Linked DNA regions of Homo sapiens. The protein of the gene in region 1 interacts with the protein of each later gene in a pairwise test. Each region holds a gene or a part of one and is shown in the gene's direction. Other genes may lie near its edges.

Region 1 (7,029 bases):
ATAAGTAAAGACATGGAGAAGAGAGAATATAAGACATATTTGGAGAATGGCTGACCATTAGTGACTTGAGTCTAAAAAGAATAGGCCAAGAAGGTTTGGAAAGTGATTAGGGGCCAGATTGTGGAGAGCTTTTAAAACCATGTTTAGGAATCTGGATTTTCTGTGAACTTTATTATTTTGTATTCTCTTTGGAACGGTGCCTTAGATAAATGCATTATTTTAAGGGTCACCCACTTCATTTGGAATAATATGTGCTTAACGTTTCATAAGGCTTAGAATGTACTTAACTATCAAAAGGATAGTTCTTGTGTTCATTCTGTGGTATTTTATTCCTTACAAACAATTGAAAAAGAAACTACCAATGTATTTAGCCTCCTTTGTGATAATGCCACTTCTTCAGGGAATCATATACCCGGAGTATCACTCTCGCATACCTTTGTTATTTTAAGCATGGGTAGGTGCTTGTATACATGGGTGGAGTTGGGGCTTTGGTGTAGTGTCACTTAAATTTTAACCTGAAAAGCAGGTTATTCTTTGTAATACAAGTAAATTTGCAGTTTTCAGTCAGCAGAAAAATTAATGTGATATTTTTATATGTTACAGGAATGTGACAAGTGTCAGAGGTAAATTTTATTTCTTTTTCTATCTACCTTTAATAAAATTGTCCCTCTGACTTTTTATCTGACATTGACCATAATTTAAAATTTTATTTTACATGACAAGGCGGCAGAAGAATAGAGCATTTTGCTACTTTTGTAATTCTGTACAGAAGTTACCAATTTGTGCACAGTGTGGTAAGTTTGTAATAATTAAGGACATATGCTTTTTATCAACTGGTAGTTCAACAATTTGAACTTGGGTGGGTTTGTTGCTATTGGTTACAGTGCTTACAATTGTTGATAATATTATGCCTTACCATTAACAAAATAACAAAACATGTTATTTTGCCTACCAAAAAACTATCAAGCCTTGGTTTTGTCTCTTTGATGTAATGCTGGAAAATAATTAAGGTACAATTTAGATACAGGTTACCAATAAGTGTTTTTAAACAGTGAAAGATCAGATTTCAGACATAACATTTGGTGATCCTGAACTTTTAGTTATACTACCTTAGTCTTGTCAGTATCTGTTTGTTTACTTATCTACATTTTGATTCCTGCTGATATTACCTGCAGTGTGTTAGACCATTGGGAATAATTTTATTCCACATTTACCTGGTACTTATTTTGTGATCAGTAGTTTTTGTGTTTGATGCTTACCATATGATTCATGAGTTTCCTCACATGTATTCCCAGGTGATTTAAATAGAGTTCTTAAGTCATGTGCCCGGTTCTTAAGTATAGGTGGAGACTTGTACCCCAAAATGATTATACAAAATAAAACTAAATGTTAGCAAGATGGGTGTTTCCCAAATAGTCTTCCACAGACTTCCTGAAATATTAATGGATATTTCTTGAAAAATATATATCGATATACATTTGAGAAATACTGCATGCATCCTCCTTTCATTCTCATCTGGGAGATTTCTATTATATATTTATATGTTAGAAGTTCTGAAGACTTGCAACAAAGAAACCCAATTAACTTTATTACTCTAGATTTACATCCCCCCCCAACTTTTGATGAACAAGTATTGCTTTTATTTATGAGATAATAATAATAATTTCAGGTAGAACAATTTGGGGTATGCTCATTTAAGTGTGTTTATATGTAATAATATTCCAGAAAGTTAGTAGTGTTTAGGGCTATATCCCTGAATATTTCTAATGTAGTTCTAGCTTTCAAAGAAGATCTTTTCAATTCCACAATTAATGAAAAAGAGAAAACTGGCCTATATGGAACACTCATATGGTAGTTTTCATAGCCTTGTTTTGCAAAAAGTAATGAATGTAGAGTGAGGAAACAGAGTTTGTGGAAGATTAATAGGTAAGTTCTTGCTAGGACTTACCCCTATTTTCAGTGTCTCTGGGCTTAAATTTTGTAGTGTTGTTAGATGGATACATTTCTCATTTACTGATTCTTAGTGTTGGACATGGAACAGTTGGGTAGCTGCTGCCTCTCATTTCCAGTTTCTCTTCCCATTTCCTACTAACTTTGTTCCTTAGGAAATCAAGATAACGGAAAATTGTTTCTTTTGTGTTCCATTTTGTGGAGTCTCAGATGGATGATTAATGTCATCATTAACTCTCACATAATATCTGATAAGCAAATTTCCTGATAGTGTTTTGAGTTGGTAATTTAATTTGCTTCTAGATCAGAGGTTTAGTGGCTGTGTGGTGATTTGTAGCTGTATCACCGTATTGTTTATTGTGCTTATTTGGGCACTATTTCAAAATTTTGTTGGGAAAATGTTTAACTGGGGGCTTCGTTGTAAATTTTTATGTTTGGATAAAATTACATTAACTCGATAAGTTACATAATCATTATTTGGTTTGGTTTGAGGTATTATTCTGTGGAAAGAAATAACTTCAAACCACAGTTTTTATTGTGAATTATAAAATGTAAAATTTGTTATAAAAAGCATTCCTTTAAAAATTGTTTTGAATAATCTGAAGATTGATAAGTTTTTAAACTGTTAAAATGATCATTAGATTACAAAGCATAACCTGCAATTTCTGATTTAGTACAAATTAGCATATATATTGTATAGTTCATTTTACAGATTTATTAGTAAATGTATAATCTGAAAAGTCTGATTCGAGTAATGAAGTCTCAGTTATATCCATTTTCTCTTTCTAGTTATGTAAGCAGTAAATACTGATTCAATTTCATTAGTTTTTAAATTATTTCCTCAGGAACTTGGGCTGGATAAAAGGAGGAATTCGTGAGTACTGGTATGTATTCCTTTGCAAGACTAACAGTGCAAATGTTTTTCTTCATTAGGGAAAACAAAGTGCATGATGAAGTCTTCAGACTGTGTCATAAAGCATGCTGGTGTATACAGTACTGGCCTTGCAATGGTGGTAAGCTTCTTATTATCTCTTAGACTAGTACGTTTTCAAGGATAAGAAAATGTCATTCTGATCAGTGGTTATTTTTTTCTAAATATCATTGCTTTGTCCCTTGTTTCAATCAATCTGTAGTTATCTGGATTATGAGTGGCATGCTTTTTGTATGATTTTCCCTTAGTACCCACTTGTTTCTAGCTGCTTCTTTCTTTCTTATTAGGGAACATACAAGGCATGGAAACTTTTCATGCTGATCTAAACAGAATTTCATTTCTCAGTGGTACCTTTTTTTTTTTAAATTTTATTATTATTATTATACTTTAAGTTTTAGGGTACATGTGCACAACATGCAGGTTTGTTACATATGTATACATGTGCCATGTTGGTGTGGTGCACCCATTAACTCGTCATTTAGCATTAGGTATATCTCCTAATGCTATCCCTCCCCCATCCCCCCACCCCACAACAGTCCCCGGTTTGTGGTGTGTGATGTTCCCCTTCCTGTGTCCATGTGTTCTCATTGTTCAGTTCCCACCTATGAGTGAGAACATGCGGTGTTTGGTTTTTTGTCCTTGCGATAGTTTGCTAAGAATGATGGATTCCAGCTTCATCCGTGTCTCTACAAAGGACATGAACTCATCATTTTTTATGGCTGTATAGTATTCCATGGTGTATATGTGCCACATTTTCTTAATCCAGTCTATCATTGTTGGACATTTGGGTTGGTTCCAAGTCTTTGCTATTGTGAATAGTGCCACAATAAACATACGTGTGCATTTGTCTTTATAGCAGCATGATTTATAATCCTTTGGGTATATACTCAGTGGTACCTTTCTAATATCTCTTAACCAGACTTCACAAAACAGTATTTAGTGTACCGAAAGCCCTGCTTAACCAACGTTTAAGCCTTTGGTTAAATAAGCAACTTAGTTCCAAACGAACCTAGGATAATAGTGTTCTTTAAAACTTTACATTTCAAAAAAGTGTATATATTTAACATACCTCTTCATTACATATAGGATTTTTTAAAGTAAATTCAGCTTTTTGAATAATAAAACCAACTGGATTATGTGATGTATTTTGCTCTTTTTCCTGAAACATGTTTTCCTTCTAAATATGAGTTAACCAGTTTTACTGTATTGCAGTATGATTTTATGTTCAAATAAAATTTTGTTCAAATTTTAATCTATGAGGAAAATGATACTATATTTATGTCAAATGGAATATTTTATTTATGGTAAATTTCCAAGAACATGTAAACTTCTATTATGAGGGAGACCTATGATATATTTCATATGTGCATATATTATAGAAGCAAGGAGCGAGAATTATCATCTTGTGAATTGCTCTTTATTTTAAGTATAGGATTGTCAAGTTATCTTTATTCAAAAACACTTTCAGTCTTCCTTGGTAGCTTAAGTTCAGCCAAATTCATTTTTTAAAATCACTGTTTTTTGAATGTGAATAATTTCTTCTTACATAAAGAAAACATTTAAGTAGAGTCATATATCTTTAGTTGTAAATTCTAGAAAAGTGATTTTCTGGATATCTTCTATTTGCCTCCCCAGATTCCCCCTGAGAATAGCAGGAGAATAAGATCTGGGTGTTTATTCCTTCATCTCACTCCGTACCAGGTTATCCTGGTTTGGTTTTATCCTTTCTCTAAGGACCACAGTTCTCCCTATATGGCCAGGTAGTCCTCTCCTGTTTGTCCTAAGAACTTCCCTGTCCTCTGCAAATTATCTCTTTAAAACTCTTCTAGATTACCTAGTTTGAGAGTACCATCTCTTTTTTGCAAGAACCCTGGCTGATCCAAGAGATATAGTTGATGATTTGCTAGCTATACTGATAACCCATTTTTGCAAGTCAAAAAACATTCTTCCTATTTGTTGTTTACTACATTTGTTTCAGAGCCTTGAATAATAGAATACTGAATTGAGATTCTGAAATCCTGGCTTTAAATCTCACCTCACCTGTAATCCAACTCGGGACTTGGATTTAGTCTTGGGCCCCATGCTTTTCCTTTATAAAGGAAAGATTGTCTGATCCTACTCTCTTAAGATTCTTTCTAGCTTTTAATATTTGGTAGGTGTCAATGTTTTATTGAAACATATTGTTATTGTCTTTTCTTGATATAGAATTGGAGAATCTTACCCTGTATTTTAGTTCCATATATTTTACTTCAAATTTTTTCCACAAAGAAATGTAATTATTATTAAAACATAAGTTGTCATAAGAGAAAAAAAGAAGCTGGCAGAAGTTTCGTATTTCTCAGTAATTCTAGAAAAGCTATGCAAATATATAGATAAGAAGGTATTTTAAAAATCAGAAATGGTAGTATTTAAAAATTCAGTGTAGTTACAGGAATTATTATAGACAAGAAAGCTTAAGCTGTTGGTTCCTTCAAACTTTATTTGAATTAAATTCATTTTGAGGAAAATACTTCCATCTCTTTGGCTTAATTAAATAATATTAGGATAAGTGTACAGTTTACCTTTTTTTCTTTTGATATGTAACTGAGTTTTGTATATTGTGGATAGCTGTTAAGAAGTTGTTTTTCAGAGAACCCTTTTTATTTTTGGCTTAGAGTGAGTAGTAAAATGTTTAAATGAAGCGGCCTACTATCATTGAGGGTTGATAAATTGCTAAATGTATACAGTTTTGATGGTTGCCGTGGTTAAAGAATGGTTGCAGGTGGTCAGGTGATAATGATTATGTATTCTTGTTCCTTGGTTACAGGGTGCAATATGTGACTTCTGTGAAGCTTGGGTTTGCCATGGTAGGAAATGTCTCAGTACACATGCTTGTGCCTGCCCTCTTACCGATGCTGAGTGTGTTGAATGTGAACGAGGCGTGTGGGACCATGGTGAGTCATTAGACACAAGTAATGAGCTTTGTTATAGGTGAATGTTGACTTTGAAACATTTTGAATGCTGTTTTTGAGATTTTTTTCAGGATACTGTCAATCCTAACTACTGGTACTGTTTTGATTATCAGTGTAGTTAGAGAAGGGATCTATACTGTCTGTTATTGTCAATGCTAGTATTGTTTACCCAAACATGGAGGGAAGTTGTGGTGGAGCAGGTAGTCTCTTTGAGCATTGTGAGTGTTATATGGGTAGCTAGTGGAGAGTAAGAGCCCCCTTTTCTCAGTTTCAGTTCAGTTTCAAGGACTTCAACAGTTTTCATTTTAGCTTTTATCAGAATAAAAATGGCTGAACAATTTTGGTGTATCTCCAAAGTAACTTACCATCTCTTCTAAGCAGTATTATAGATATGAGTTTTTTTAAATTAAAGTTTATCTTAATTACATTTGTGTTTTTTTAATCCAATAGGAGGCAGAATATTCAGTTGTTCTTTTTGCCATAACTTTCTCTGTGAAGATGATCAATTTGAGCATCAAGCCAGCTGCCAGGTTTTAGAGGCAGAAACATTTAAATGTAAGTTTTTAAGTATTAGATGTTCTTTATACCCAAGATTCTGAATAGTATAATTATTAATCTTAATGAAAAAGGAATCAAGTTTTTTTATACTGCTTCTCATGAACTGTAATTTAACTCAGTCTTTATTTTCTGTTTCTAGAAAACAGAACAGTCAGAATATAGTTGTAAATTTTTCAGCAGGGATGCCAGTGGCATATTGGTTGGGCCAGTTTTTCATTTTGTAGGCTTGATTTGATCAGGCATTGCAGGACTTACACCTTTCGTGGTTCAGAGTACCACATGTCATTTTTACCTTCAAATTATTATAAAAAACCAAACCTCACCCTTCCTTCCCATTTCCAAATGCCCTCCCGTAAGAGATACCACCCTGTTTGTTTCTGCTAGTTGGTTCTAGTGATTCTTAGACAGGACTGTATATCAAAAATACCTGTGGAGGTTTTAAAAATAATGTAGATGTCCAGGCCTCATCCCTGGAGATTCTATCTTTTAAGTCCGTGGTGGGTGCCAGGCACCTGTATTTAACCTATACACAAAATTCTCACGTATTTTCCAGTTGAGAGCCAGCATTGCTGACTGGGTAATAGTATCATCTTTACACATAGTTTTTTTCTTGGAAGGTTCATTGAAATGAGACACCAT
Region 2 (6,891 bases), on another chromosome or scaffold:
TGTACTTTTTAGGGGGTGGGGCTCTGGCTTTTTCAGTAAACATAACTATTTTAAGGTTAATCCATTATCTTGTTGCATGAATCAATTGTTTGCTCATTTGTATTGCTGCGTAGTATTTCAGTATTTCATTGTATACCACAATTTTTCTTCTTTGTCAACTTAATTGTTATGGATGTTTGGGTAACTTTCAGTTTTTGGCTATTACAAATAAACCTCTGAAGATTTGTGTGCAAATTATGGCTGAATGATATTCCATTCTATAAATACACCTCAGTTTCTTTATCCATTTACTTATTGAAGGACGGTTGCTTTCAAGTTTTGGCAGTTATGAATAAACCTACTACATATTTGTATAGTTTTTCTGTGGAGATGTTTTCAACTCATTTGGATATGTGCCAAGGAGTGCAATTTTCTCTGTCATATAGCATGTTTAGTCTTGTAAGAAACTGCCAAGCTGTCTTCCAAAGCGGCTGCACCATTTATTTTATTTATATATATTTTTTGAGACAGAGTCTCCACTCTGTCACCCAGGCTGGAGTGCAGTGGTATGATCTTGGTTCACTGCAACCTCCACCTATTTTAGTAGACATGGGTTTTTACCATGTTGGCCAGGCTGGTCTCAAACTCCTGACCTCAAGTGATCACCCTCCTCGGCCTCCCAAAGTGCTGGGATAACGGGGGTGAGCCACTGCAACGGGCTGTGGCTGTACCATTTTTGCATCCAACTAACAATGATTGAACATTCCTCTTGCATCTCATCCTAATCAGCATTTGGCATTTTCAGTATTTTGGATTTTAAAATGCCATTCAAATAGGTGTGTAGTGGTATGCCATTGTTGCTTTTATTTGCAATTCCCTAATAACACACAATAAGTATCTTTTTTAAAGGCAGGGTTGTTTTGTTTTGTTTTGAAATGGAGTCTTGCTCTGTTGCCCAGGCTGGAGTACAGTGGCATGATTTCGGCTCACTGCAACCTCCACCTCCCGGGTTCAAGCGATTCTCCCACCTTAGCCTTCCAAGCAGCTGGGACTACAGGCACCCGCCACCATGCCCAGCTAATTTTTGTATTTTTAGCAGAAATGGGGTTTCGCCATGTTGGCCAGGCTGGTCTCGAACTCCTGACCTCAGGTGATCTGTCTGCCTCGGCCTCCCAAGGTGCTGGGATTACAGGTGTGAGTCACTGCGCCCAGCCTGGCTGGGGTTTTTTTATGTGAGTTTCACACACCTCTGAGTAAGTGGCTTGCAGACAGAGAAGTTAACAACTTTGGCTGTTAGCTTGAACCTGTGATTTATGAATACCAAAAAGACAAATACAGAATCTAAGGAAACACATAACAGTCCTGTATACACACAGCAGCTGGCAGCCCTATTCCCGGTGTGTCCCATATACCTACCATTGACCTGAAACCCAGTTTGTACGTGCTCATTGAACATTTTGTAGAGCAGTAAATACACATCATCACACAGATTGCCTACTCATTTTTATTTTTATTTTTCGAGACGGAGTCTTGCACTGTCACCCAGGCTGGAGTGCAGTGGCGCGATCTCTGCTCACTGCAACTTCCACCTCCTGGGTTCAAGCGATTCTCCTGCCTCAGCCTCCCAAGTAGCTTGGATTACAGGCACCCGCCACCATGCCCAGATAATTTTTGTATTTTTAGTAGAGACAGGGTTTCACTATGTTGGCCAGGCTGGTCTTGAGCTCCTGACCTCGTGATCCGCCCACCTCGGCCTCCCAAATTGCTGGGATTGCAGGCGTGAGCCACCGCACCCGGCCTTCATTTTTATTTTTTGACAAGTGTTTCCATTTGTTATCTCTATCCCTCCAAACAGTTAATAAGCGATGTTTTCAAGTATGAAATAAGAAATACATATAGGAGACAGAAGCATAATGTGTCCAGGTTCCAGCACAGCCAGTCTCAACTTCATTCTTTGACTTCTCAGACTCTTGCTCAAACTCTACTGTAACCTTGCTTTTTCCCCCCTTCACATGTCACAGAGAGATTTCTGTAGGACTATTTCTGCCACTAGTTTTGAAATAACATAATCACTGTTAGTCCAAACTGCACCATCCTGTAAGCCCCCTGCCATCTCACAGACCTTGGTCAGAGTGAAGCATTCCACGGAGTGAGGGCCTTGAGAAACATCCTGCCCAACTGCCTGACTTTCTTATCACATCGTTCTGGGAAAAGATCCAAGGAAGGTCACTATCACATCCTGCCGGATAAAAGGCCAAACTGCCTCAGGAACATCTTACGCACATCCTTTGGCCGGGTGCTGTGGCTCACGCCTGTAATCCCAGCAATTTGGGAGGCCGAGGCGGGCGGATCACCTGAGGTCAGGAATTCCAGACTGGCCTGACCAACATGGTGAAACCCTGTCCCTACTAAAAATACAAAAAAATTAGCCGGGCGTGGTGGCACGCGCCTGTAAAGCCAACTACTCGGGAGGCGGAGTTCAAGAATCGCTTGAACTCCGGGAGGCGGAGGTTGCAGTGGGCCGAGATCACGCCATTGCACTCAAGGCTGGGCGACAAGAGCGAGACTCCTCCAAAAACAAAAAAAAACCCACCATCCTCCTGGGCAGCAAGTCATACCCTCCCGCCGCGCCCCCTGCCCCCCACCCCTGACCCCTCTCATCCAGGCCTATAATTGCCCCAGCCTGTAAGCAGTGAGGGGTTCTGGCACTAAGCTAGTTCTCCCCATCACAGGTCTCGTGCTGGACATAAAACCTGCATTGCTGTAGAGCTGCCAACTCTGCCTTTCTTTAACCCTCGCCTTCCCTTCAAAACCTAACAGTTATTATTAATAGATTTCTGTAATTTTCATTTCACAAGTATTTTCACAGATAATTTCAACTCCCTGTAAAATGATAACTCACTTCTCAGGAAGGAGATAAGATCATGAAAGTTCACAGTTTTTATTGGGGATAATACGTTCCCTGTGTACATATACTCCAACTATGGAATGGCACAAAATGTCCTGTCAGGAAATGGCATGTATCAGTCACTCTCATTTTCAGACAGGATTGAGACTTTTAAAATAAATGTAAAATATTTCAGACATGAAGTAATAAGTATTATTAGAATAAAAGCATTGCACTCTTGGTAGGAACACAATCACTGACTCTACAGACAGTAATGATGTTTTCTTCTGGATCCAGAGGCACAGCGTCACCCTTTCAATCTACGTCGGTATCTCCTGTCTTCTTTTGTGCAAATTCCCAGCCATGTAGTCTTTCTTTGTTCTCTTGGACCAACCATATTGAAGCTTAATAAATAGAAGTCAAAGTTTAACTGTATGTGTATTTGAAAAGCAACATATGGCTGAGAGGCATGAGTAGAGACAGAGTGCCTTTGTGGTATAGTGTGTCCCTTTGGCGGTGTAGCCGTTGAGAACTTGCTGTGCTTCACAATCCGATATCATAGGTCCCTCACATTTCTGTGAGTATCCTAGACCTTACTTCAAGAAAATCTGGTTATGTCGCCTTTAAGAGCAACCCAAGCCCCGTCCTGTCCGTGGAGTCCGGCACTCTGTTTACCAGCTCCCCTGACGGTGCCACTGAGCCTCTATCCGCCATATAAGGACTGACCAACGCTCTAAGGCAAGTCCAGAAGCGGTGTCGAAACTTCATAACCCAGAAGACACTGCGGTTCTCGGCAGCGCGACTGACCCAATGAATGTGCAGGAAGGAACCTTTGCGTGCGTGCGTGCGTGCGTGCGTCCGTCCTCGTGCTCGCGCATCGTAGGAGGGCGGGACTTCCGGCGTCCTCTTGCCGTGGTTGATTTGATTTTCTCTGGTGTTTTCACTAGTTCCGGCCTTTGGCGCTCTATGACGTCACCGAAGTGACGGAGCGGAAAAGCGCGAGAAGCGGCTTGGTTCCTTGTACGCAGAGGCGGTAGTGACACAGGCACAACTGACAGTGGCAGAAGCTCAGCTGACAAGGACTGGGGACGGCGGTGTCCTTGTCTTGCCTTTGTCGCCCCCGCCCCTCTCTTCCCTGGCTGGACTTGCGGAGTCCCCGCCGAAGAACCCGAGGTGGGTGCCCCGTCCCAGGCCCCCCCCCACCTCCGCCCGACCCCTCCTTCCAGTGCTGAAGCCCATAGAAGGGGCCCTGCAGGTCAGGCCCCTTGTCTCGAAGAGAGGGGCGTTCCTGTGTGGGGTCCCCGTATCAGCTGGTTTGATGCAGCCTCAGAGCTCCCTTCGGGGATCTCAGGTTCAGAGCATGGAGGTGCTGCCAAGTGGGCCGCGTCGGGGAGCCCGGAGTGTGGGTTGTTTCTGCGGGAAAGAGAGGGTTTTGTGAATTTTCTCTTGGAATGGCAGCCTGAGCAGCCGGTATAACCATGGAAGGTTGTCAAGGGAAGACCAGTGGGAGGGGCAGGTCCAGAGTTAGAACGAGCAGGATGGGGAATTGACACAGAGAGACCCAGAAGAGGCCACTGCAGTGGATCCCAGAGGCTGCACCAGAGCCGTGGTATAAGAGGGACAATGTGATGGGATTCTGGATAGACCTGGAAGATAGAGCCAACAGGTTTTCCTGCCGTATCAGATATGTCTGTGAGCAAAAATAGGGAGTGAAGGGTCATTTTTTTTTTTTTGCCCGAACATCTGAAAGAATGAAGTTGGGGAAGTCAGCAGCATGAGAAGTAGGTTTCATGGAGAAGATCATGGGTTGGAGTTTGGCCAGTGTGATTCTCAGGCGTCTCAAGTTGAAAATGTCACATGGGTAGGGGGACAGAAAGGTGTGGAGTCTACAGAGGAGAACTGGTGTAGATTCTTCAAAAGAATAGAGGGTGGCCGGGCGTGGTGGCTCACGCCGGTAATCCCAGCACTTTGGGAGGCCAAGGCGAGCGGATCACAAGGTCAGGCGTTCAAGACCAGCCTGACCAACATGGTGAAACCCCGTCTTTAGTAAAAATACAAAAATTAGCCGGGGGTGGTGACGCGCGCCTGTAATCCCAGCTATTCGGGAGGCTGAGGCAGGAGAATTGCCTGAACCCAGGAGGTGGAGATTGCAGTGAGCCAAGATCGCGCCATTGCACTCCAGCCTGGGCGACAGAGCGAGATTCCGTGTCAAAAAAAGGTGCGGAGCGCGGGTCTCTTCCGCGGAAACTGACATTGCGTTTCCGTTGTCGGCCTCCCGCTGCAGGAGCCATATATTGAAGACCATGTCTGGAAGCTTCTACTTTGTAATTGTTGGTCACCATGATAATCCAGTTTTTGAAATGGAGTTTTTGCCAGCTGGGAAGGCAGAATCCAAAGACGACCATCGTCATCTGAACCAGTTCATAGCTCATGCTGCTCTCGACCTCGTAGATGAGAACATGTGGCTGTCGAACAACATGTACTTGAAAACTGTGGACAAGTTCAACGAGTGGTTTGTGTCAGCATTTGTCACCGCGGGGCATATGAGGTTTATTATGCTTCATGACATAAGACAAGAAGATGGAATAAAGAACTTCTTTACTGATGTTTATGATTTATATATAAAATTTTCAATGAATCCATTTTATGAACCCAATTCTCCTATTCGATCAAGTGCATTTGACAGAAAAGTTCAGTTTCTTGGGAAGAAACACCTTTTAAGCTGAATGGAGAAAATTCCAAAATAAATTATATCACCACAATGGTGTATACTCAGGAATGTGTACATTGTAAATTACTTGATTAAATAGCCTGGAAATCTTTTGTGTATTCTCAGCTTATCTAAACTTAATGAAATTTCTTTTATATTTAAAAATAGTACATTCTGTCTCATGTCACATATCAGTAGATCAATTAGTATTTCCTTGTGAACAATGTTATTTATAAAGAACTCATTATCAATAATAATTAATTTCTTTCTTTTTTTTTTTTTTTTGAGACGGAGTTTTGCTCTTGTTGCCCAGGCTGGAGTGCAGTGGCACAGTCTCGTCTCACTGCACCCTCCGCCTCCCAGGTTCAAGCAATTCTGCCTCAGCCTCCCGAGTAGCTGGGATTACAGGCTCCCACCACCATGCCTGCCTAATTTTTTTTGTATTTTTAGTAGAGACGGAGTTTCGCCATGTTGGTCAGGCTGGTCTTGAACTCCTGACCTCGTGATCTGCCTGCCTCGGCCTCCCAAAGTGCTGGGATTACAGGCATGAGCCACCACTCCCGGCCATGAAATATTTTTACTTAAAAATTGGGAATAAGCTTTCTTTTTCTTTCTTTCTTTCTTTTTTTTTTTTCTTTTGAGATGGAGTCTGGCTCCTGTTGTGCAGGGGCTGGAGTGCAGTGGCACGATCTTGGCTCACTGCAACCTCCACCTCCCGGGTTCAAGCAATTCTCCTTCTTCAGCCTCCCAAGTAGCTAGGATTACAGGCATGCACCACCACGCCTGGCTAATTTTTGTATTTTTAGTAAAGACGGGATTTCACCATATTGGTCAGGCTGGTCTTGAACTCCTGACCTCGTGATCCGCTCGCCTCGGCCTCCCAAAGTGCTGGGATTACAGGTGTGAGCCACTGCGCCTGGCCATGAAATATTTTTTACTTAAAAATTGGGAATAAGCTTTTTTGTGTGTGTGTGTATGTTTTTGTTTTTTTGTTTTTGAGATGGAGTCTTGCTCCTGTCATGCAGGCTGGAGTGCAGTGGCACGATCTTGGCTCACTGCAGCCTCTGCCTCCCGGGTTCAAGCAGTTCTCCTTCCGCCTCCAGAGTAGCTGGGATTACAGGCATACGCCTGGCTAATTTTTGTATTTTTAGTAGAGACAGGGTTTCGCCATTTTGGCCAGGCTGGTCTTGAACTCCTGACCTCAGGTTATCTGCCTGCCTCGGCCTCCCGGAGTGCTGGGATTACAGGTGTGAGCCACTGCGCCTGGCTGGGAATAAGCTTTCGACTTGCCCAATTCAGATAAATTGTTTTTTTT
Region 3 (7,029 bases), on another chromosome or scaffold:
TGAAGCTAGGCTACTGACGAATTTCACTAAATACACTTGCCCACATTTAACAGAGTGGTCACCAGTCCGTGGCCACAGCAAACATAGGAATTTACTCCTAAGAAACTAGAAATAACCTAATAATGTAAAGGATCTTTCACATAAATATTCTCTAAATGTTCAAAAGAAATACAGGCATAGGATCCATAAACCAAGACAAACACAGTATAACCTTTATAGCTCACTTTAAACATCGTTTACATAATACGCATTGCCATGATGTATAACACTGAAAGGAAACCTGATTCTATTTCCATGTTTTGCCTTTAATATCAATAATGTATACAGATATTAAAAAAAGGATATTTTGTTTTTTGCTTGTAAATTCATTAAGATTAATAAAAAGGACATATTAATATATTTTAAAGGGCTCCTTAAAGTACCTTTTATTCAAATATAAAAGTGTGGTGCATGTTCAGGGAATGATATTACATGGATAAAAATCCAGGAAAAAAACAACCTTTATAGAGGTCAGACTCAAATATCCTGCTTTCCAAAATCAGTGGCAGTAAAATGCACCTTCTCAAAGGCACTTCACAGGAAAATTCACCTTCCCAGAGGCCTGTGTACACTGTGCTCCAATAGCAATTTGAAATAGTCTATTTCTTAAAAATTTTTAAACTATGATGCTTTAGAAAAAGGCTTTTGATTACTTTATTTCTAATTTTTTTAAAAAAGAGGCTGGGTGCACTAGCTCATGCCTATAATCCCAGCACTTTGGGAGGCGGAGGTGGGAAGATTGCTTGAGCCCAGGAGTTAGAGATCAGCCTGAGCAACACAGCAAGACCTCATCTTTACAAAAAATTTTAAAAAATCAGCCAAGCACAGTGGCATGCAACTGTAGTCCCAGCTACTCGGGAGGCTGAGGGAGAAGGATCACTTGAGCCTGGGAGGTAGAGGCTGCAGTGAGCCGCAATTGAGCCACTATACTCTAGCCTGGGTGATAGAGTGAGATCCTATCTCAAAAATAAAACAAAACAACACGCCCAAAAAAGGACAAAGATCTTTCCAGTCATAAAAACATTAGAGGGAGTTGTTTCAGGATTTGTTCCAAACCATGCAACCAAAGAGAAAGTTCAAGATGTTGTAGTTCTTGAGGAATGTGAAAATTAAAGATTGTTAAAAGCTACTGAACCATTGTATAAATATAGGACTTAATTTTTATGGATAGAAAATCAAAATCTGTTTTGTTTGATGCCACTTTCTCTTTCTCTCGCCTCTGAGCTTCTAACATTGTTACTCTTTCTTTTTCCCTATATTTACACGGGTGCAACCCAGTTTAAAAAATAATAATGTGGCAACTAGCACTTCAGCTATATATGCTGTATTTTTAAGAATTCATAGTCAAGGTGGAAGGATCCCTTGAGGCTAGGAGTTCAAGACCAGCCTGGACAAAAGAGCGAGATCCTTTCTCTATTAATTGATTAATTAATTAATTTTTAAAAAACAATTCATAGTGACAAGCTAGTACAAGAGAAGGAAACAGAAATTTGGTTAGATGACTATGAGTTGAAGCAGAAGAAAATATAAGAATATCAATCTCCATATAGTACCAAATATAAAATGCAATATTTCTTAGACTTTCTGTAAACATCAGTCTGTGAGATCCAAATTATTTTTCTTCTTTTATAGTGTAAAGTGATCAATTTGGTCTGATTATATTAAAGATCCTAATAAAGCTTCAAACAACAACATTATTTTAGATCCTATATGCTATATTATCTCCTGCTAAATTTTTTCTTTTAAATAGATATAGTATGTATATTAGTAACATAATACAGTATTTGATATAGATAAACATTATTTGTGTATATTTCACTAGGATAACCAATTTCTACTCAATAGACAATAGGGGAAAAAGAACAGATTTGCAATCAAGTAGATATGTCTAAACGTAGGATCTGCCACCTTTTAGTTGTGTGGCCTTAGGCAAGTCACTTTAAAATTCCCCTTATTTGGACGTTGCTTTTCTTGGACTGGACTGTTTCTTTAATTTTCTTAATGTCTGAAAGGCCATGAAAATAATACAAAGAAAATGGAGAAAATAAAGTTCTTAAAGAAATTATTTAAAAAAAAAGCAAGACCGTAAATACATGAGTTTCTAGGTTGAAAAGACCAACTATATGTTTACCAAATAAATGCATCAAGACCTACCCCAGATCACATTGTTGTGAAATTTCAGAACACCAGGAATATGAAAAAAAGGTCAAGAATTTCATGAAAGGAAATATAAAAACAGATCTACAAAATATCAGAAAACACAGGGCAGAATATTCAGAGGTAACAAAACTAGAAGATGTAGTAACAAAACTTTCAAAATTTTGAGGGAATATAATTTCCAACTGAAACTTATATCCACAGAAAATATAGTATTCAAGTATAGGACAGAATAAAAATATTTTCAGTAATGAAAATTATCATTGCATTTATGTTTTGAAAAGGAGCTATGGTACACTCCCAAATCAAGGAGATAAACCAAGAAAGGTGAGGAATTGGAAATCAAAAATAGAGAATATAAAAGAGGAAGAAAATTCTAACACAATCAGGTTACATTAGAGTTTCCAGGAAAGGAGCCTCAAAAGATGAATAAAATGAAATAAAAATATATATATTCTATATTTAAATATGTCAAGAGGATATGTTCAATTCACTTCAGTTTTAGAATGAATTAGTGATGTATGTACAAAATTAAGCAGGTGAAAAACTTTGGTAATTAATATTTTCTTAAAATTAAATGTTATATGTTTCTTGATCTATGTGGTAGTTACATGGATGTATTTACTTTGTGAAAAATCACCATAATATACATTTATGTTCTGGGGGACTTTCTGTATATATAAATATGTCAATAAGAAGTTTTCTTAAATATATTCATTTTCTATCTCTATCCATTGAAAAAACTTAGAAATAATTTAAAAAATTATTTGAGAAAGGAAATACAGCTACAGTACCTTAGGTGACTCACATATAAATAATATTTGGGTAGTCACAATAATGTAAACACAAAATATTGATTAACCAAAATTTGTGATATAACTGTATTAAAAGGGGGAAGGTGAGGGAAGAATGGGGGTGTGAGAGAAGATTAAATCCACATCTTCCATAGAAGAAATTCAATAAAATAACTAAAACCAAAAAAGCAGCCGGGTGCGGTGGCTCACACCTGTAATCCCAGCACTTTGGGAGGCTGAGGCGGGTGGATCACTTGAGGTTAGGAGTTCAAGACCAGCCTGGCCAACATGGTAAAACCCCATCTCTATTAAAAATACAAAAATTAGCTGTGCGTGGTGGCAGGCGCCTGTAATTCCAGCTACTCAGGAGGCTGAGGCAAGGAGAAATCACTTGAACCAGGGAGGAGGAGGTTGCAGTGAACTGAGATCACACCATTGCACTCCAGCCTGGGTGACAACAGCGAAACTCTGTCTCAAAAAAAATAAAATAAAATAAAACTGAAGAAGCAAAAATACCTACACATGCAAATTACCTAGAAACAGGAGTTTAGATGCAACATATAGCTAAGGAGCTGAAAATGACTGCCTTTATGACTGTCTTTAAGGAATGGAGAATTGGAAAGGGGATGTGGTACGGCAGGTAAGGGTCAGATATATATCTTTAGAAGCCTTGACATGACTTGACTTGTTAACCTGTGTACATGCATTATTAATTTGAGGGAAAAAATAACATTTTTAAAAAGCTTATTTAAAAAGCTTATGGCTATATTAAATGCGACATGGTATCTTCAACACTTTGGGGAATAATTTATTTTCAGCATCAATATAGTAATACTAGAAAGAGCTTATAGATTAGGGAGTCATAAATACCACTAAACCACAAAATGAACACTAGGAAGCTATACAAGATAAATTACTAAGCCAACCTACTTTAACATCAAATTTTCTCTATACTGAAAAGAAGACTAGTTCTTATCAGATGTATATAATAAAACATGGGTGATAATTCTGCTTTCACAAAGTTGCCACATGGTAAAAAGTTTCCACATTACTTCCCAATAGTTTTACATGTCTTTAAGTATCTATACCTGGATAAGCATCAAATATTTTATACAATATTTGGCCAGGCATGGTGGTTTGTACCTGTAATCCCAGCACTTTGGGAGGCTGAGGCGGGCAGATCACTTGAGGTCAGGAGTTCAAGATGAGCCTGGCCAACATGGTGAAACCTTGTCTCTACCAGAAATACAAAAATTATCTGGGCATGGTGATGGGCACCTGTAGTCTCAGGAACTCGGGAGGCTGACGCAGGAGAATCGCTTCGAACCCAGGAGGTGGAGATTGCAGTGAGCTGAGATCATGACACTGCACTCCAGCCTGGGTAACAGAGCGAGACCCTGTCTCAAAAAAAAAATTATATATATATATATATAATAATATTAAACACGAAAGACAAAAACAACTTTTTAACACCTAAAACTGGCAATTCTTTCTATAGTATCGTCTAATATTCCTCCTGACTAATCTTCCTTTCATAATTGTTCCAGGTTTAGTATCATTCATAGCTCATTTTTTTCCTTGGATCTTATAGAAACACTAGCTTTGGTTAGCTCTACTCTGAAGGTAGAGAAACTGTTCCTTGCCAGTAAAGTAGAATATAGACAATAAAAATATGCAGAGGAAGAGGCGTATGGAATCTCCTTCCAGCTTAGAAGTCCCCTATTTACATAAATTGTACTGACTGAACTTTTTTACCTTTACTATAGCAAATCAGTGGCAAAAACAAAAGATTACCGGCTATTTGAATTAAGTATTTAAAATAGGTGAAATAAATAGTAGAATGCTTTAAGTGCATTTCAGCAACAAAAACTTGCTCTTAAATGTTTCCCACCGGTACTTAAAATGCTCAGCAATATAGTCATGTGGCAATAAAGTAATACAGCAAATGTTTCCGAATAAACTTTTAATATCTATAAAACACCTTTTCCTGACACAAACAGATTTCAAGGTCTTATCCCTTGTGATCTGGCTCTTTTCCCAACCACTTAACTGACCTAATTGCCTCTTTTCAGAACTCACCCTAAATGATCTAACACCACTGAAAAACCTTCATAGCATAGTAAAGCTATGCTATGTCATAGTGAAGTTACTATGCTCTAGTATGCTATACTGTCGTATAAAGAGTTGAGTCCTTCAAACTATACTGCCAGAATCTGAATCTCAACTCTACCACTAGCTGACAACATGGTTCAATTACTAAAGCTGAGATCGTAATTTCATTATCTATAGAATAGAGATCATGACAATACTTGTTCTTATAAGAACATAAAACACACTTAGTGCCTGGCACATATTAAGAGCTCAAGTAAATCTAAGATATCAAGATCTCAACATAAGAACTCAAGTAAATATAAGACTCATCAAGGTGCTGGGAAAGAATAAAGACCCTCTACTTTCTCCTCTAAGTATTAACTCTATGAGGTACCAGAATGAATAAAAACCCTTGATCTCATGGAGTTAATACTGGGAGGAGAAAGTAGACAATTAAGTTAATATAAATAAGTAAAATACATGGTATGTTAAATAGTGAAAAATGCTAAGAAAAATAAAGCTGGGAAGGGTCAGAGAGTTGAAAGAAGGTATAGTTCAAAATAGGGTGACAAAGAACATCCTAACTCAGGAGTGACATTTCAGTAAGGACTGGGTTGGGGAAAAACGTCACATACTACATGGGAAAGAACACTTCAAATAGAAGAGAAGGCAAGTGCCAAGGCCCTAAAGCCAGATGGTGCCAGATTTGTGTGAGAACAGCAAGGACAGTGAGACTGAAGCAGAGAAAGGGAGAGTTGTAGGAGGTGAGGTCGGAGGGGTAACAGAAGGGGTGAAGTCATTGTGGAGCTTTGTAGGCTCTAGTTTTTCCTCTAAGAGATAATGCCAAAGGAGGATTTTAGGCACAGGAATGACATGGTCTGACCTACATTTTAACTCTGAATTCTGTGTTAAGAAAAGACCAGAGGTTTTGTGGTGGGGGCAGGATGGGGGGTAGTTGGTGCAAAAAGGAAACAAGGAGAACACTTAGGAGACTATCGTTAACAATCAAGATGAAAAATAACAGGGACTTGACCAGTTGCGGTGGCTCATGCCTGTAATCCCAGCACTTTGGGAAGCCAAGATGGGCGGATCATGAGGTCAAGAGTTCAAGACCAACCTGACCAATATGGTGAAACCCTATCTCTACTGAAAATACAAAAATTAGCCAGGCATGGTGGCATGTGCCTGTAGTCCCAGCTACTCGGGAGGCTGAGGCAGAAGAATCGATTGAACCTGGGAGATGGAGGGTGCAGTGAGCCAAGATTGTGCCACTGCACTCCAGCCTAGGCAACAGAGGGAGACTCTGTCTCAAAAATAAAAAATTAACAAAAATAACAGGGACTTGAACCAGGGAGATGGTAAGAGGTGGCTAGATCCAAATACATTTTGAAAGAGATGTTGACAAGATTTGCTGTGCTTGCATATGAAATGTAGAAAAAAAAAGTCAAGAATGACTTCCAGCCAGGCGCGGTGGCTCACAGCTGTAATCCCAGCACTTTGGGAGGCCGAAGAGGGCGGATCGCCTGAGATCAGGAGTTTGCGACCAGCCTGGCCAACATGGTGAAACCCTGTCGTTAATAAAAATACAAAAATTAGCTGGGCGTGGTGGCACATGCCTGTAGTCCCAGCCACTCGGGAGGCTGAGGCAGGAGAATTGCTTGAACCCGGACGGCGGAGGTTGCAGTGAGCCGAGACCACACCACTGCACTCCGGCCTAGGGGACAGAGTGAGACTCGGTCTCAAAAAACAAACAAAAAAAGACTTCTGAGTCTCTGGTCTGAGCAACTGGAAAAATAGAGTTGCCAGAAGAGAGATGGGGCAGTTTACGGGTTCACAGGAAGATTATGAGCTCATTTTGGATAGAGGCATTCAAATGCAGCTGTCAGGTAGGCAGTTTTTTAAGAGCAACCTAAACTGGAGATACAAATTTGGGTCATCAGCTTACAAA
Region 4 (7,029 bases), on another chromosome or scaffold:
TTTTTTGTAGAGATGGGGAGTTTATGTTCACTGTGTTGTCCAGGGTAGTCTCGAACTCCTAGGCTTAAGCAATCTTCTTGCCTCAGCTTCCCCAAGGAGATGGGACTACAGGTGTGTGTTACCACACCAGGCTCATTTTAAAATTTTTTTGTAGAGACGGGGTCTCACCGTGTTGCCCAGGCTGATCTCAAACTTCTCGCCTAAAGTAATCCTTCCACCTCAACCTCCCAGAGCACTAGGATTACAGATGTGAGCCACTGCAACTGGCCTTATGTGTGTTTTCCTGATTTTGCAGGAATATATGGGAATTTCATACTAGGAGGTAATGACCTCTAGGTAGGTGGATGTGGGGATTATGGTCAGCTCGGGGTTCTCTTGCCTTCATTTTCTTACAGGACATTATCTTTCTGGGGACCCAGTTTGCCTTCATGAAGAAAAGACACCAGCAGGAAGAATAGTGGCTGACTGCCTAACAGATTGTTATCAGGTAAAAAGCAGCTGTATTCTTATACATAGTGACATACTTGCATCCACCAGGTAGACACATTTCCCTCTAGGCAGAGTTGTCTCCAGACTTCTTTTTTTTTTTTTTTTTTTGAGAGGGAGTCTCGCTGTGTTGCCAGGCTGGAGTGCAGTGCTATGCTCTCGGCTCACTGCAAGCTCCGGTCTCCAGGCTTCTTAAAGCAAATAAAGTGTCACTCAAGGACTGAATCCCCATTTGAATTTCCCCAAGGGTTGGGGCCACCCATATAGGGAGGTGCTAACTTGGAAATCATCCCAGGCCGGGCATGGTGGCTTACACCCATAATCCCAGCACTTTAGGAGGCTGAGGCAGGCAGATTGCTTGAGTACAGGAGTTCAAGATCAGCCTGAGCAACATAGTGAGACCCCGTCTCTACAAAAAATTTAAAAATTAGCTGGGCAAAGTGGTACATGACTGGACTCCCAGCTACTTTGGAGGCTGAAGTGGGAGGATCACTTCAGCCCTGGAGGTTGAGGCTGCAGTGAGCTGTGATTGCACCACTGCACTCTAGCCTGGGCAACACAGCAAGACTCCGTCTCAAAAAAATTAAAAAAAAAAGTGTCCTTTAAGTTGTTTATCAGCATTGATCAGATGTCTGGAATGTGCTGAGCAATGCGCTCAAATAGATGGAAATAAGATGAGATCTTGGGCGGGCACAGTGGCTCATGCCTGTAATCCCAGCACTTTGGGAGGCTGAAGGGGGCGGATCATGAGGTCAGGAGTTCGAGACCAACCTAGCCAGTATGCTGAAACCCTATCTCTACTAAAAATACAAAAAATTAGCCGGGCATGGTGGCGTGTGCCTGTAATTTCAGCTACTCAGGAGGCTGAAGCAGGAGAGTTGCTTGAACCTGGGAGGTGGAGGTTGCAGTGAGCCAAGATTGCACCAGTGCACTCCAGCCTGGGCAACAGAGTAAGAGTCCATTTCAAAAAAAAAAGAGATCTCCTAGTCTGGTTGTGCTGAGATAAATTCATATTCAAGAAGTGCCATTAATGCACTATGAGTGGAGGAGATGACAGTGAGTATGTTTAGGGTGCGAGGAGTTTCTAGGACCCTTAAAACCTGGGGCTGGTCACTGCAGCCCTTGGAATCCTGCATAGGCATTGGGTCCCCCTTCCTCATCCTCCAGCGAACGCTGATGGGCTTGTTACTTGGCTCCAACCAGCATGTGTGTGATGCTTTAGGATTCAGTGACCTTTGACGATGTGGCTGTGGACTTCACCCAGGAGGAGTGGACTTTACTGGACTCAACTCAGAGAAGCCTCTACAGTGACGTGATGCTGGAGAACTACAAGAACCTGGCCACAGTAGGTAAGACTGGCCTCATCCCTTGCAGCCTTCTATGGAACTGATATGTTTTGTACTTACTGTTTTGCAGCATTGGCAATGTCAACTCTGAATGCAAAGAGAAATAACAGAGACATAGTCCCTGTCCTAAATAGATTTTAATCTACTGTGACCATTCTGAAAATGTGGTCCAAGATTAATAGCAACACCATCTGCCTGTTAGAAATGTACATTTTCCTTCTCCACCCAGAAACCTGGAGTTGAAGCCCAATAATCTGTGTTTGAACAAGTTCTCTGGATGACTCTGATGCACAATAATGTTTTAAAAAACACTGGGGTAGTTGTTTCCCCAGAAGAATGAAGATCTCTGTTATACTTCCTTATTCCTTATTTGTTGTTGTTCTTGTTTTGAGACAGTTTCACTCTGTCACGCAGGCTGGAGTGCACTGGCATGATCTCAGCTCACTGCAATCTCTGCCTCCTGGGTTCAAGCGATTCTTGGGCCTCAGCCTCCCGAATAGCTGGGATTACTGGCATGCGCCACCACACCCAGCTATTTTTTTTTTTTTTTTGTATTTTTAGAAGAGATGGGGTTTCACCATGTTGGCCAGGCTGGTCTCGAACTCCTGACCTCAAGTGATCCACCTGCCTCAGCCTCCCAAAGTGCTGGGATTACAGGCATGAGCCACCACACTCGGCCATTATTTTGTGTTTGAATAAAAGTCTCAGTGCTTTTTAAATGTGTACATAAGCCTGAATTTCGGTTTAGGGGACAGAAGTAACCAGACTGTTTGGGGCACAGTCAGAGTTGTTATTTGCATTTTTCGCCCTTTTGAAATAGCTTCACCACTTTCATTAGATCTGTAGTTCCTGAATCACAGAAAGGTTTGTAATCTTTTTTATGAGCCTCTTCCATTAATGTATTTCTCTGTGCTCAGGAGGTCAGATCATCAAACCCAGTCTAATCTCTTGGTTGGAACAAGAAGAGTCAAGGACAGTTCAGGGAGGAGTTCTCCAAGGTGAGTGTTCATGAAGAACAACTCTGGTTGATGAGAAGTTCAGTATGTTTGAAAGCATAATTAGGAAACTTTTTAACATGTACTTTCTCCCTGCACTCTAAACCCCAAGGTTTAGAGAAAGTTAGGAAATATTTAACTTCCCACACGCTTTTATTTACAGAGCAGTCCCCCCTTGTCTGTGATTTCACTTTTCACGGTTTCAGTTATCTGCATTCAACCATGGTCCAAAAATATTAAATGGGAAACTCGGCCAGGCATGGTGGCCCACACCTGTAATCCCCACACATTGGGAGGCCTAGGTGGGTGAATCATTGAGCCCAGGAGTTCAAGACCAGCCTGGGCAACATACCGAGAACCTTGTTTCTACAAAAAATACAAAAATTAGCCGAGGGTGGTGGGACGCACCTGCTGTCCCAGTAACTCAGGAGACTGAGCTGTGAGGATGGATTGAGACTAGGAGGTCAAGGCTGTGGTGAGATGTGATTGCACCACTGTACTCCAGCCTGGGTGATAGAGTGAGACCCTGGCCACTGACCCCCACCCCACAAAAAAAAAAAAAAAAAAAAGAAAAAAAGAAAAATTTCCAGAAATAAACAAAACATAAGTTTTAAATTTCTCACCATTCTCAGTAGTATGATGAACCCTTATGTCATCCTGCCTGGGGTGTGAATCATCCTTTTGTCCAATGTATCTACACTGTGTACACCACCTGTGAGTCACGTAGCGGTCATCTCAGTTACCAGATCGAAGAATCATAGTATGTACAGGGTTCAGAACTAGCCATGATTCAGGCATCCACCTGGGGTCTTAGAACATTTCTTTAAGTTAATTGTGGCTTTTGTTTGTTTGTTTTGTTTTTTGAGATGGAGTCTTGCTCTGTCGCCCAGGCTGGAGTGCAATGGTGCAATCTCAGCTCACTGCAAGCTCCACCTCCCGGGTTTATGCCGTTCTCCTGCCTCAGCCTCCCAAGTAGCTGGGACTACAGGTGCCTGCCACCATGCCTGGCTAATTTTTTTATATCTTTAGTAGAGACGGGGTTTCACCGTGTTAGCCAGGATAATCTCAATATCCTGACCTCGTGATCTGCCTGCCTCGGCCTCCCAAAGTGCTGGGATTAAAGGCATGAGCCACCGTGCCCGGCCAAGTTAATTGTTTAGATATACGCTCTTTTTTCAGAAATTTCCTACTTTCATTCCCTGATTCTCTCTATTCACTATCAGTTTTAATTTTCATAGCATCAATTTGTAATAAACGATCGAAAAGTTTTACCCCATGTCCTTGTCTTGGCCAATTTTTCCCCCTTTGGATCATTTACATCAAAACCAAATTTTTGATATAGCCCAAATCCCCAAATGTCTTTCTGCTTTTTCTTGCCATGTTTAATTTGAAACAAATAGAAATAAGCCATATTGTTTTGAACTCTTTGCATTTCTTTCTCCAAATCCTTTCATTTGTTCTTGTTGTGGTTCACTCTGTTTGTTGCCAAGGCTGGAGTGCAGTGGTGTGATCTGAGCTCCTTACAACCTCTGCCTCCTGGATTCAAGAGATTCTCCAGCCTGAGCCCCGTGAGTAGCTGGGATTGCAGGTGCTCACCACCACACCCAGCTAGCTTTTGAATTTTTAGTAGAGGTGGGGTTTTGCCATGTTGGCCAGGCTGGTCTCAAACTCCTGACCTCAAGTGATCCACCTGCCTTAGCCTCCCAAAGTGCTGGGATTACAGGCATGAGCCACTGTGCCTAGCTTGAGTCCTTTTATTTGTTTGTCTGTTTTATTTCAGGATGGGAAATGCGACTTGAAACCCAGTGGTCTATACTTCAGCAGGACTTTTTGAGGGGTCAGACATCCATTGGGATACAATTGGTAAGATTTGCATAGGATATTTTTTATTTTCCACCCTCAGAGAAAATCAGGAATTCTGTTATGGGAAGTCAGCAAAAATAAGAGATATTTGAGAGAAGTTGCATACACATGAGAGGGAGCAAAGAATTTAGGGATGCTCCAATTGTGAAACTTGTTTCTTTGGAGCTTTCACACATTCCCACAAGTGTAACTAGACGTTGAGTTTTGTTTTGGTGTTTTTTTGAAACGAGATACTGCTCTGTCACCCAGGCTGGAGTGCAGTGGTGCAATCATGGCTCAGTATAGTCTTGACCTCCTGGGCTCAGGCGATCCTCCCACCTCAGCCTCCCTTGGTAGCTGGGACTACAGGCATGCACCACCACACCCAGCTAATTCTTCAAAATTTTGTGGAGACAGGGTCTTACTGTGTTTCCCAGGCTAGTCTCAAACTCCTGTGCTCAAGTGATCCTCTGCCTCAGTTTACAAAAGTGCTGGGAGTACAGGCATGAGCCACCACATCTGGCTTAGACTATGAATTTTTTTTTTTTGGTCGAGACAAGGTCTTGCTGTGTCACCCAGGCTGGATTGCAGTGGCACAAACATGGCTCACTGAAGCCTTGACCCCTTGGCTCAAGTGATCCTCCCACCTCAGCCTCCTATGTGGTTGGGACTACAGGAACACACCACCATGCCCAGCTAATTTTTTGATATTTTTTATAGAGATGGAGTTTTGCCATGTTGCCCAGGCTGGTCTCTAATTCCTGGGTTCAAATGATCCACCCACCTTTGCCTCCCAAAATGCTGGGATTACAAATGTGAGCTACTGCACCCATCTAGACATTGAATTCTACAGAAATCTGTTATTATTATTATTATTATTATTTTGAGACGGAGTCTCGCTTTGTTGCCCAGGCTAGAGTGCAGTGGTGTGATCTTGGGTCACTGCAACCTCCGCCTCCCAGGTTCAAGCGATTCTTGTGTCTCAGCCTCCCAAGTAGCTGGGATTACAGGCATGTGCCACCAAGCCCAGCTAATTTTTGTATTTTTAGTAGAGACAGGGTTTCACCATGTTGGCCATGCTGGTCTTGAACTCCTGACCTCAGGTGATCTGCCCCCCATCGGACTCCCAAAGTGCTGGGATTACAGGCATGAGACACCATGCCTAGCCAAGATTAAAGTAGATGGCACAACATTCTAGAATAAGAGTTAAGTCATACCACTTAAAATAAATCTACAGGGAAGGACCTGAATGCATGTAATAAAAATGGCATCAATTATAATCACCATTATAATGTTTCTAGCTTCAGATGGGTATGTTCTGTTAATATGTTTGAGAAAAATCCTTAAATCATCATCATCCCTTCAACAGGAAGGAAAACACAATGGAAGGGAACTCTGTGACTGTGAGCAATGTGGAGAAGTCTTCAGTGAACACTCATGCCTTAAGACGCACGTGAGAACTCAAAGTACAGGGAACACTCATGACTGTAATCAGTATGGAAAAGATTTCCTTACCCTGTGTGAGAAAACCTCTACTGGTGAGAAACTTTCTGAGTTTAATCAGAGTGAAAAAATCTTCAGCCTGACACCAAATATTGTATACCAGAGAACTAGCACACAAGAAAAGTCATTTGAATGTAGTCACTGTGGAAAATCCTTCATTAATGAGTCATACCTTCAGGCACATATGAGAACTCACAATGGAGAAAAACTCTACGAATGGAGGAATTATGGGCCAGGTTTTATTGACTCTACAAGCCTTTCTGTGCTTATAGAAACCCTCAATGCAAAAAAGCCCTACAAATGTAAGGAATGTGGAAAAGGCTATAGATACCCAGCCTACCTCAGTATTCACATGCGAACCCACACTGGGGAGAAACCATATGAATGTAAGGAATGTGGGAAAGCCTTCAATTATTCCAACTCATTTCAGATACATGGAAGAACTCACACTGGAGAGAAACCCTATGTATGTAAGGAATGTGGGAAAGCCTTCACTCAGTACTCGGGCCTTAGTATGCATGTACGATCTCACAGTGGAGACAAGCCCTATGAATGTAAGGAATGTGGGAAATCCTTCCTTACATCCTCACGCCTTATTCAACATATAAGAACTCACACTGGAGAGAAGCCTTTTGTATGTGTTGAATGTGGGAAAGCCTTTGCAGTTTCCTCAAATCTTAGTGGACATTTGAGAACTCACACTGAAGAGAAGGCCTGTGAGTGTAAGATATGTGGGAAAGTATTTGGGTATCCCTCATGTCTTAATAATCACATGCGAACGCACAGTGCCCAGAAACCATACACCTGTAAGGAATGTGGGAAGGCTTTTAACTATTCCACCCACCTTAAAATTCACA

Evidence for each region.
Region 2: the proteins of ZNF330 (region 1) and ZNF547 interact in binary tests that used the Homo sapiens proteins (3 or more experiments, as listed by UniProt).
Region 3: the proteins of ZNF330 (region 1) and STX19 interact in binary tests that used the Homo sapiens proteins (3 or more experiments, as listed by UniProt).
Region 4: the proteins of ZNF330 (region 1) and ZNF426 interact in binary tests that used the Homo sapiens proteins (3 or more experiments, as listed by UniProt).

Annotation. Positions count from the first base shown.
Region 1 is NC_000004.12:141,223,884-141,230,912, forward strand, and holds part of ZNF330 (zinc finger protein 330), read left to right. Parts: intron 1-603; coding exon 604-623; intron 624-723; coding exon 724-794; intron 795-2,883; coding exon 2,884-2,963; intron 2,964-5,687; coding exon 5,688-5,814; intron 5,815-6,282; coding exon 6,283-6,387; intron 6,388-7,029.
Region 2 is NC_000019.10:57,359,665-57,366,555, forward strand, and holds the start of ZNF547 (zinc finger protein 547), read left to right. Parts: upstream 1-3,886; 5' UTR 3,887-4,039; intron 4,040-5,150; exon of another isoform or gene 5,151-5,169; coding exon of another isoform or gene 5,170-5,592; exon of another isoform or gene 5,593-5,741; intron 5,742-6,891. Other genes in the region: TRAPPC2B (trafficking protein particle complex subunit 2B), read left to right, coding at 5,170-5,592. UniProt on the Homo sapiens protein: May be involved in transcriptional regulation.
Region 3 is NC_000003.12:94,018,577-94,025,605, reverse strand, and holds part of STX19 (syntaxin-19), read left to right. Parts: intron 1-7,029. UniProt on the Homo sapiens protein: Plays a role in endosomal trafficking of the epidermal growth factor receptor (EGFR).
Region 4 is NC_000019.10:9,528,646-9,535,674, reverse strand, and holds part of ZNF426 (zinc finger protein 426), read left to right. Parts: intron 1-395; coding exon 396-487; intron 488-1,708; coding exon 1,709-1,835; intron 1,836-2,749; coding exon 2,750-2,830; intron 2,831-4,607; coding exon 4,608-4,690; intron 4,691-6,038; coding exon 6,039-7,029. UniProt on the Homo sapiens protein: May be involved in transcriptional regulation.